Regions from separate parts of the Homo sapiens genome. Here region 1 is linked to region 2. Evidence: fine-mapped expression QTL. A gene starts in region 2. The other region holds a variant in brackets. All regions are shown on one strand. Distances are between the middles of the regions.

The links.
Region 1: its variant is fine-mapped to the expression of LRRC47 in breast (GTEx, PIP 0.98).

Annotation. Positions count from the first base shown.
Region 1 is chr1:3,815,039-3,819,369 of GRCh38, reverse strand. CEP104 (centrosomal protein 104) reads left to right here. Exons shown (of 22, transcript NM_014704.4): 21 at 3,000-3,090; 22 at 3,853-4,331. The coding sequence ends at 3,968. Among named protein-coding and RNA genes, the nearest start is that of LRRC47, 21 kb to the right of the region's middle. The variant G/C (reference allele first, on the strand shown) is at 2,773.
Region 2 is chr1:3,794,213-3,798,593 of GRCh38, reverse strand. LRRC47 (leucine rich repeat containing 47) reads left to right here and starts at 2,096. Exons shown (of 7, transcript NM_020710.3): 1 at 2,096-2,732. The coding sequence starts at 2,118. RefSeq lists an enhancer at 1,915-2,209 and a silencer at 2,325-2,534.

The DNA of each region.
Region 1 (4,331 bases), 21 kb before region 2:
TCCATCACCCAAAAGACAACACTGCCTACATGCCGCCCCTTTTCTCCCCAGCCCCCTCTCCAGCCCCTGGCGACCATATGTCTAGTTTTGGTCTCCATGGATTTGCCTACTGTGGACATTTCCTGTAAATGGAATCAGACACTATGCGGCCTTTGTGTCTTTGACTTAACGTGTTTTCAAGGTTCGCCCGGGTTCTAATAGATCAGTAGCACTTCATTGCACGTTCAAGTCCTTGAACATACTAGGTATCTGCTTTAAAGTCCTTTTGTGCTAATTCTAACATCTGGAATTTTTCTGAATGTGAAGGGGGATAAACAGTGAAGTTTGACACCCTCCACACTGCTCAGAAGAAAGCTCCGAGTGGATCTGAGATTCAAATGTGAAAGGCCCAATTATGAATCTCTCAGGAGATGCTAGAGATAAGAGAATAGCCTTCAGAATAGGAAGGGATTTCTCAAACAGGACACAGAAAGCTTAAGCCTTGATGGAAGAGGCAGATCAATTCAATTAGATTAAAATGAAGAACCTTGGGGCAGAGTTTGGGTTTTGTAAAATGAAAAGAGTTCTGGAGTTAAGCATCGTGAACATGCTTAACACTACTGAACTGTACACTCATTTTATAATAAAACTATTAAATTGTAAAAGGTGAGAACCTCCTCTTCATCAAAGAACATAAATAGACTGAAAGACAATGCTGGGGATGAAAAATCATTGACCATTATTCTTCAAAGTGAGTGGAAGGCAATGTCCCTGCAGGGTTTGAGCGGAAGAGTGGGCATGGCCTGGCGGGCCCTATGCCAGCCAGTTTTGCTGCTCTGTTGAGAGCAGCCTGTGGGACAGAGAGGTCGGGTAGTAGCAGAGAGCTAAGTGGCGAGAAGTGGTCAGATTCTGGACACACACTGCAGGCAGACCCAGGACTTGGCCGGTGGAGTCCTCACAACATGGCAAGGAAGTAACTGCGGTCAGGAATCCAGGGCGCTCAGGAGCTTAGCCTGGAGCTGTGGAGTTAAAATCCCTGTCAGACGCGCAGGCCGGTAGACAGGTGGCTGCAGGTGGAAATGTGGGGTTTGTAAGCGTGTATAAGAAGTGGGTTTAAGGTCATGATACTGGGAGCACTCTTCTAAAGAGCAAGTGTAGACAGAGGAGAAGCCCCAGGCAGAGTGGGAGGAAGAAGGCAAACCAGGCGCTGGGGAAGAAATGCACTGGGGAGGAAGCCTGACGAGGGTGGCGTCCTGGAGGCCCCAGAGCACAGCCCATCAGAGAGGATGCCCTGCTGGCCTGGCTGGGTTCAGCTGATCGCAGCCGCCTGGCTCTTGCATCTGCACTTGGCCATAGGGCGGCCAGGCGGCTCTGCTGGCCCTGACTGGGCTCACACACGCGTGTGCCTGGGGTCCGCAGCCGGAGACTGATTGAGAATGGTCTTGGAGGCAGCTGCGGCACCTCAGCTTTGCTTTCTGTGTCTGAGCCCAGCACGCCAGCCTGGGCACGGCGTTCTCGCGACAGCAGCAGAGGGCAACAGCAAGACAAGCCCAGGCGCATGAGTTCATTTCAGCCTGCCCTGCCACGTGTCTGCCACTGTCCCATTGGCCAAAGCAAGCCACAGTCACCCAGATTCAAGGGATGGAGAGGGACCTGCCACCTCTGTGCTGGGGAGGGAGGAATTGGAGCCTTAGAGCAGGTCATGTCCCTCCACGGGGGAGGGGGAAGCAACTGCACCCCATGTGCCGGTGGGCCACATTCTGGTGAGAAGGCGCCCCAGCTTTAGGGACACGAAGGTTGCCAGTGGCCTGGAGAGACCAGAACCCAGGCCTGCCGGGAGCAGCTAAAGCGGGACAGGAGTGGGCTGGGCTGGGGCTGCAAGCGCTCTAGTATCTTGAGGGCTGCCGCAGGTGGCCAGAAACTGACAGCCACTGGTGAGAGTGAGAGAGGAACCAGGGAGAAGCAGGGCTGTGTCTGGTGGAGATACTGGTCCACCAGAGAATGGGAGAGCGGCTGGAGCAGTGTCCCTGGGAAGCGTTGTTTGTTTTTGAGATGGAGTCTCACCCTGTTGCCCGGGCTGGAGTGCACTGATGTGATCTCGGCTCACTGCAACCTCCGCCTCTCACGTTCAAGCAATTCTCCTGCCTCAGCCTCCTGAGTAGCTGGGATTAGCTGTTGGGGACACGAGATGCGCCACCACACCCAGCTAATTTTGTGTTTTTAGTAGAGACGGGGTTTCACCAAGCTGGCCAGGCTGGTCTCAAAATCCTGACCTCAGGTGATCCACCCACCTCTGCCTCCCAAAGTGTTGGGATTACAGGCGTGAGCCACCGCGCCCAGCCTCGTGAGTGTTGTTTAAATAGAAGGGAAGGAACCAGGAACAACTCGAATGTCCAGAAGACTCAGGGAACCAGCGATCCCGCGTTTATATCCAACAGGAGGACGAGATGAGCTCCCTGTCCCCATGCAGACGGTCCCACAGCTGGTCGTAAAGGAAAGAAGCTGGCTGCCCAGGCAGTCAGGCCTGCATAAGCCCCACATTCTGCAGGGCAAGTGCATGTGGCGTGGCTCAGGAAGAGCAGGGATGAAGAGAGTGGGAACCCCACGAGGAACCGTGGGCAGCAGGCTGGCGGGGAGCCCGCGGTGCCTGGCGCGTTCTGTCTTCTGGCCTGGAACGTAATCACGCGGGCGCTCTGCTTCTCACCCTTGCATTTGCGTGCACGCTCTGCTGTGCTCAGAGTCACTGACACCAAGGGCCCTGTGTGGCTGGGTGGGGATGCGAGATGCAGGCTT[G/C]CCTGGTGACAGGACTTCTTGCTTCCTGAGTTGTACCCTGCACAGACTGCAGAGGCTATCATAACATATCCGAAGGGAGGTGCCCAGGTGAGGGAGCCGTTCTTCTGCGGCTCTTGCTGGAGCGGCCGCCCTCGTTTTCAGCTTACACAGCGAGTCCTTTTGGGTCTCAGGTAGCGTGCCAGGTCCGTCTCGCCTGATTAACACTCTGTGTGCCTCCTCTGCTGCAGGCATGGAAAGCTCACCTGATGGGCCCAGCCGGCTGCACGATGAACCTGCGCAAGACACACATTCTGCAGAAGGCCCCGGCACTGCAGCCAGGTGAGGGACAGCGCCGCTGAGCAGGTGTAGTCTGCATCCCTCCATTTTGACTTATTCAAAAAAGCATCCCCGTCCAGGGCAACATGGCAAGACCCCATCCCTTTAAAAGCAAAATAAAGCATCCAAGCCTGTCTTCATGTTCTGGTTCCTTAGTAAGCAGGCTAATAATCAGAATCGTGTGACCAAAATCCTTCTCCACCTGCAAACTGGCTGTGCAGTGCGAAGGCTCCACGGGTGGCCTAGGATTCACACTCCCGTCCTCCGCTCTTTCTACATCACTGACTCAAGTGTTTAGAATCAGGAAGCTGGCCAGGCACAGTGGCTCACGCCTATAATCCCAGCACTTTGGGGGCTAAGGCAGGCAGATCACTTGAGGTCAGGAGTTCGAGATGAGCCTGGCCAACATGGTGAAACCCTATAAAAAATTGGCCGGGCACAGTGGCCGGCACCTATAGTCCAGCTACTCAGGAGGCTGAAGCAGGAGAATTGCTTGAACCCGGGAGGTGGAGGTTGTGGTGAGCCAATATTGCGCCACTGCCCTCCAGCCTGGGTGACAGAGTGAGACTCTGTCTCAACAAAAAAAAAAAAAATAGGAAGCTGAAGAGTAGACCCTACTAGGCTCAGCCCTGGCTCCTGTAGTCGGGTGACGGCCATCAGCATGGGCCTGGGACGTTGTTGCTGGGTGTCTGTGGCCACAGGTTCTGCACCTGGTCCGTGGGTAGGAGTGCCCCTCCTAATGCAGGTCCTGTGCTTGCTCTGCAGGGAAAAGCTCAGCTGTGGCCGCATCAGGCCCCTTGGGGTCAAAGGCCGGAAGCAAGATCCCCACCCCGAAGGGCGGACTGAGCAAGAGCTCCAGCAGGACGTACGCCAAGCGCTGACGCGGCGCTCGGGCTCCTTGGTCTCTGTGAGGGATGGAGCGGGTCTCCTGATTCTACACCATCTCTCCAGAACTCTCTGGCCTTGGTGGCCCCATGCTCTGGCTGCTGTCCCCAGCTCCCCGCCGTGCACGCCTCTTACGCGTCTGTGCCGTCAGCTCTCGTGCAAACGATATGGATGCAGCTAACCAAAGATCCTGCGTGCAGTGCCAGGACCTGGCCGCACTGTACATTAAGCCTTCAGGGCTGTCTCAGGCCTTCCTTAGAATCAGAGAAGGAAGCGTCCTGTTTGGAGAGAGCCAGAGAGCACCGCCGGGAGGCGCTCGCGCAAGGCCACGGTCAGCACAGGCACGGTCCCGCTTTCCT
Region 2 (4,381 bases):
CCTACCCCTCCACATCCGACCCTTCCCATCATGGCCTGAACTAGTTTTTCAGATTAACTAGGGAATGCCCTTGGCCCAGAGGAGGGGTCCACTCAGATGGTTGGGGGGCTTAGAATTTTATTTTATTTTTATTTATTTATTTTGAGACGGAGTCTCACTCTGTCGCCCAGGCTGGAGTGCAGTGGCGCAATCTCCGCTCACTGCAAGCTCCGCCCTCTGGGTTCTTGCCATTCTCCTGCCTCAGCCTCCCGAGTAGCTGGGACTACAGGCGCCTGCCACCAAGCCCGGCTAATTTTTTTTGTATTTTTAGTAGAGACGGGGTTTCACCGTGTTCACCAGGATGGTCTCGATCTCCTGACCTGGTGATCCGCCCGCCTCGGCCTTCCAAAGTGCTGGGATTACAGGCATGAGCCACCGTGCCCAGCCTCTAGAATTTTATTTTTTGGCCAGGTTTGGTGACTCACACCTGTAATCCTAGCAATTTGGGAGGTTGAGGCAGGTGGATTGCTTGAGTTCATGGGTTTGAGACCAGCCTAGGCAACATGGCAAAACCCCAGCTCTACAAAAAATACAAAAATTAGCCAGGCGTGGTGGCACATGCCTGTGGTACCAGCTACTCAGGGGCTGAGGTGGGAGGATCACTGGAGCCAGGGAAGTTGAGGCTGCAATGAGCCGAGCTGGAACCACTGCACTCCAGCCTGGGTAACAGAGCAAGACTCTGTCTCAATAAATAAATAAATAAATAAATAAGAATTTGGGGGCTGGGTGCGGTGGCTTGTGCCTGTGAGCCCAGCACTTTGGGGGGCTGAGGCGAGCAGATCACCTGAGGTCAGGTGTTCGAGACCAGCCTGGCCAACATGGCGAAAACCGGTTAATATAAAAATTATATTAACACGGTTAATATAAAAATTAACCGGCCACGGTGGCATGCACCTGTAGTTCCAGCGGGAGGCTGAGGCAGGAGAATTGCTTGAACCCAGGAGGCGGAGGTTGCAGTGAACCAAGATAGCATCACTGCACTCCAGCCTGGGTGACAGAGCGAGACTCCGTCTCAAGAAAAAAAAAAGAATTTTGGTTTTGGTTTACACCACTCAAAAGTGCAGGAATTCCAAAACAAGCCGGTCGGGGCACAGTAGAGCACAGACTCTGGCTCCTCCATCCGCCCGCACCCCACCCTGTGAAAGGAAAATAAATCTCAAAACCCCACAATCACTAAGTCAAAGGAAAAAGTCAAGCTGGGAACTGCTTCGGGCAAATCGGCCTCCCGTCTTATTCCTAAATAAGATAGTTACAAATACATATTTTTAAAGCTACACACCTCCCTCACAATTTGCCCACAAAGAAATTCTCTGTGGGCCTCAAGATCTTTACCCTAAAACAGTTCTGTTGAATTTCACCCTGGCAATGCAAATTGATAGCTTCCCTTCACAGGTGCGAGACAAAGGACTGAACTCAAAGCCATCCCTCTGCTCACCTAGACAAATGCATATCTGATCGCTTCCTTTGCTCTACTGTTTACGTAGAAATGAAGATTCAGTAAGCCAGACTAAAGCATAAGCGACTATTCCTCTACCCGCGTCTCACATGCATAATAAATTGTGCAGTCAGCGAAAGGCTGAACAAAGACTCAAAAGAATGCACCCTCCGGTCTCTTCTCTACCTGTGACCTGAAAGCCCTCTCCTGGAATTGTCCAGCCTTTCTGGGCTGAACCAAGGTACACTCGCACGTGTTGATTGATGTCTCACGTCTCCCCAAAATGTACAAAACCAAGCTGCATCCCAACTTCCCTGGGCACCATCGTCACGATCTCCTAGGGTTGTGACACTGGCGTGTCCTTAACCTTGGCAAAATAAACTTTTTACATTTCATTGAGTCCTGTCTCAGATATTTTTGGGTTCATAACCCCCACCCTCACCCCTACCCGCGGAGAGAGCGAGCCGCTCTCCAGCCCCTCCCCGGCTCTACGCAGGAGAGGCCACTCTCCTCTATGGCACGCGCGGCGGCACTCTAGCAGCCAGGTGGCTTCTCTATGGGCTTTTCCGGCACAGGTCGGAAGTGGCGCGCGCTGCCCCGGAAGCACCCTGGTGGGTGGGTGCCTGCCAGCAGCTGAGGCGCCATGGCGGCGGCAGCGGTGTCAGAGTCTTGGCCGGAGCTGGAGCTGGCTGAGCGCGAGCGGCGGCGGGAGCTGCTGCTGACGGGGCCCGGGCTGGAGGAGCGAGTGCGGGCGGCGGGTGGGCAGCTGCCGCCGCGGCTTTTCACCCTGCCGCTGCTGCACTACTTGGAAGTGAGCGGCTGCGGGAGCTTGCGCGCGCCGGGGCCTGGCCTGGCGCAGGGCCTGCCGCAGCTGCACAGCCTCGTGCTGCGGCGCAACGCGCTGGGGCCCGGCCTGAGCCCCGAGCTCGGGCCGCTGCCTGCCCTTCGGGTGCTCGACCTGTCGGGCAACGCGCTGGAGGCGCTGCCGCCGGGCCAAGGCCTGGGCCCCGCCGAGCCGCCGGGCCTTCCGCAGCTGCAGAGCCTCAACCTCAGCGGCAACCGGCTGCGCGAGCTGCCAGCCGACCTGGCGCGCTGCGCCCCGCGCCTGCAGAGCCTCAACCTCACCGGCAATTGCCTAGACTCCTTTCCCGCCGAGCTCTTTCGCCCCGGCGCGCTGCCCCTGCTCAGTGAACTGGCGGCTGCTGACAACTGCCTCCGAGAACTCAGCCCCGACATCGCCCACCTGGCCTCGCTCAAGGTCAGCGGGGGCTGCCCGGGCGGGGCGGGATGGGGCCTTGGAGTAGCCCTGGAGAAGGAACCCCTCTCGGGGCCGAGCAGTTCCTAGTGACGCCCCCTGGGGCACTGGGCCCAGGGAATTCCTACAAGGCTGAAAGGAGCCAGCTGCGGGGGGCATCACCCCTGGGAAGCAGATGCCGCCTTCCAACTCCCCCTTCTCCTGGCCACACCAACATACTAGGTGGCCTCTGAACTCCCCCGCATTCTGTTAACTGGACTTTTACACGTGGTACGCTATTTTGTAATTGTTAGCAAACCTGGCTTCTCCTGTAGATCGAGCGTAGAGACCTGTCTTTTTTGTATCTAGTACTTGTGAAGTGACTTGAGAGTGAGTCTGGTGGTGAAGGGGGCACCCTGGATTTTGCATAATGCCACATGCTGTGATCTTGAAGATTATATTTCACTTCATCCTAATAGCAGCTTTCCAAGGTAGGGGTGGTTATTCCTGTTTTACAGAAAGCCAAAGGGCCTGCCCAAAGTAAGCAGCAGGTAACTTGGGTTTTTCTCCAGACTATATTGTCCAGCGTCTGTTTACTAATTAATCTTGGATCCCCAGGCCCCGCGATAATGCTTGGCCTATAACAGGTGCCCATTGAATCTGTTGCCTAAAAGAAAGTAGGGAAGCCACATGGCAGAACCACGACCTAAACCCAGCCAGATGTTCTCTCCATCTTCTCTTTTGGTTTCATCCTTAAGGCAGTCCTGCATTTCTTCCCCCATTTTTCGTCTTTGAATTTATGCAGACATTTCTTTTTTTTTTTTTTTTTTTTGAGATGTAGTCTGGTCCTGTCACCCAGGCTGGAGTGCAGTGGCGCGATCTCGGCTCACTTCAACCTCCGCCTCCCGGGTTCAAGCGGTTCTTCTGCCTCAGCCTCCTGAGTAGCTGGGCTTACAGGCGCACACCACCACGCCCGGCTAACTTTTGTGTTTTTAGTAGAGACGGGTTTCACTGTGTTGGTCAGGCTGGTCTCGAACTCCTGACCTCATGTGATCCGCCTGTCTCGGCCTTCCAAAGTGCTAGGATTACAGGTGTGAGCCACCGCGCCTGGCCTATGTGGACATTTCTTAATAAAATACGTATACACTTTAGCAGCTTATCTATTTATTTGCTGTAGCAATTCCTCAAGACATTGCAACTCATTTTACAAGTAACATATCTATATAAGGATATATAGACAAACCCTGGCCGGGCGCGGTGGCTCACACCTGTAATCCCAGCACTTTGGGAAGCTGAGGCGGGCAGATCGCTTGAGGTCACACCACCAGCCTGGCCAACATGGTGAAACCCCATCTCTACAAAAATACAAAAATTAGCTGGGCCTGGTGGCGCGTGCCTGTAGTCCCAGCTACTCGGGAGGCTGAGGTGGGAGGATCACTTGAGCCCAGGAAGTGGAGGTTGCAGTGAGCTGTGATACCAGCCTGAACAGAGCGAGACCCTGTGGCAAAAAAAACAAACCCACTGTAGAGTGACACATGGTTACTGATGTAACTGCCCAATGGGTTCATTTTATCCACTACCCGGATAGAGCTGATTTATCAGGGCAGGAGGGTTGCAATAGAGAAAGTTTTACACATGTAGAGCCAGCTAAAGTGGAGACTGGAGTTTTACTG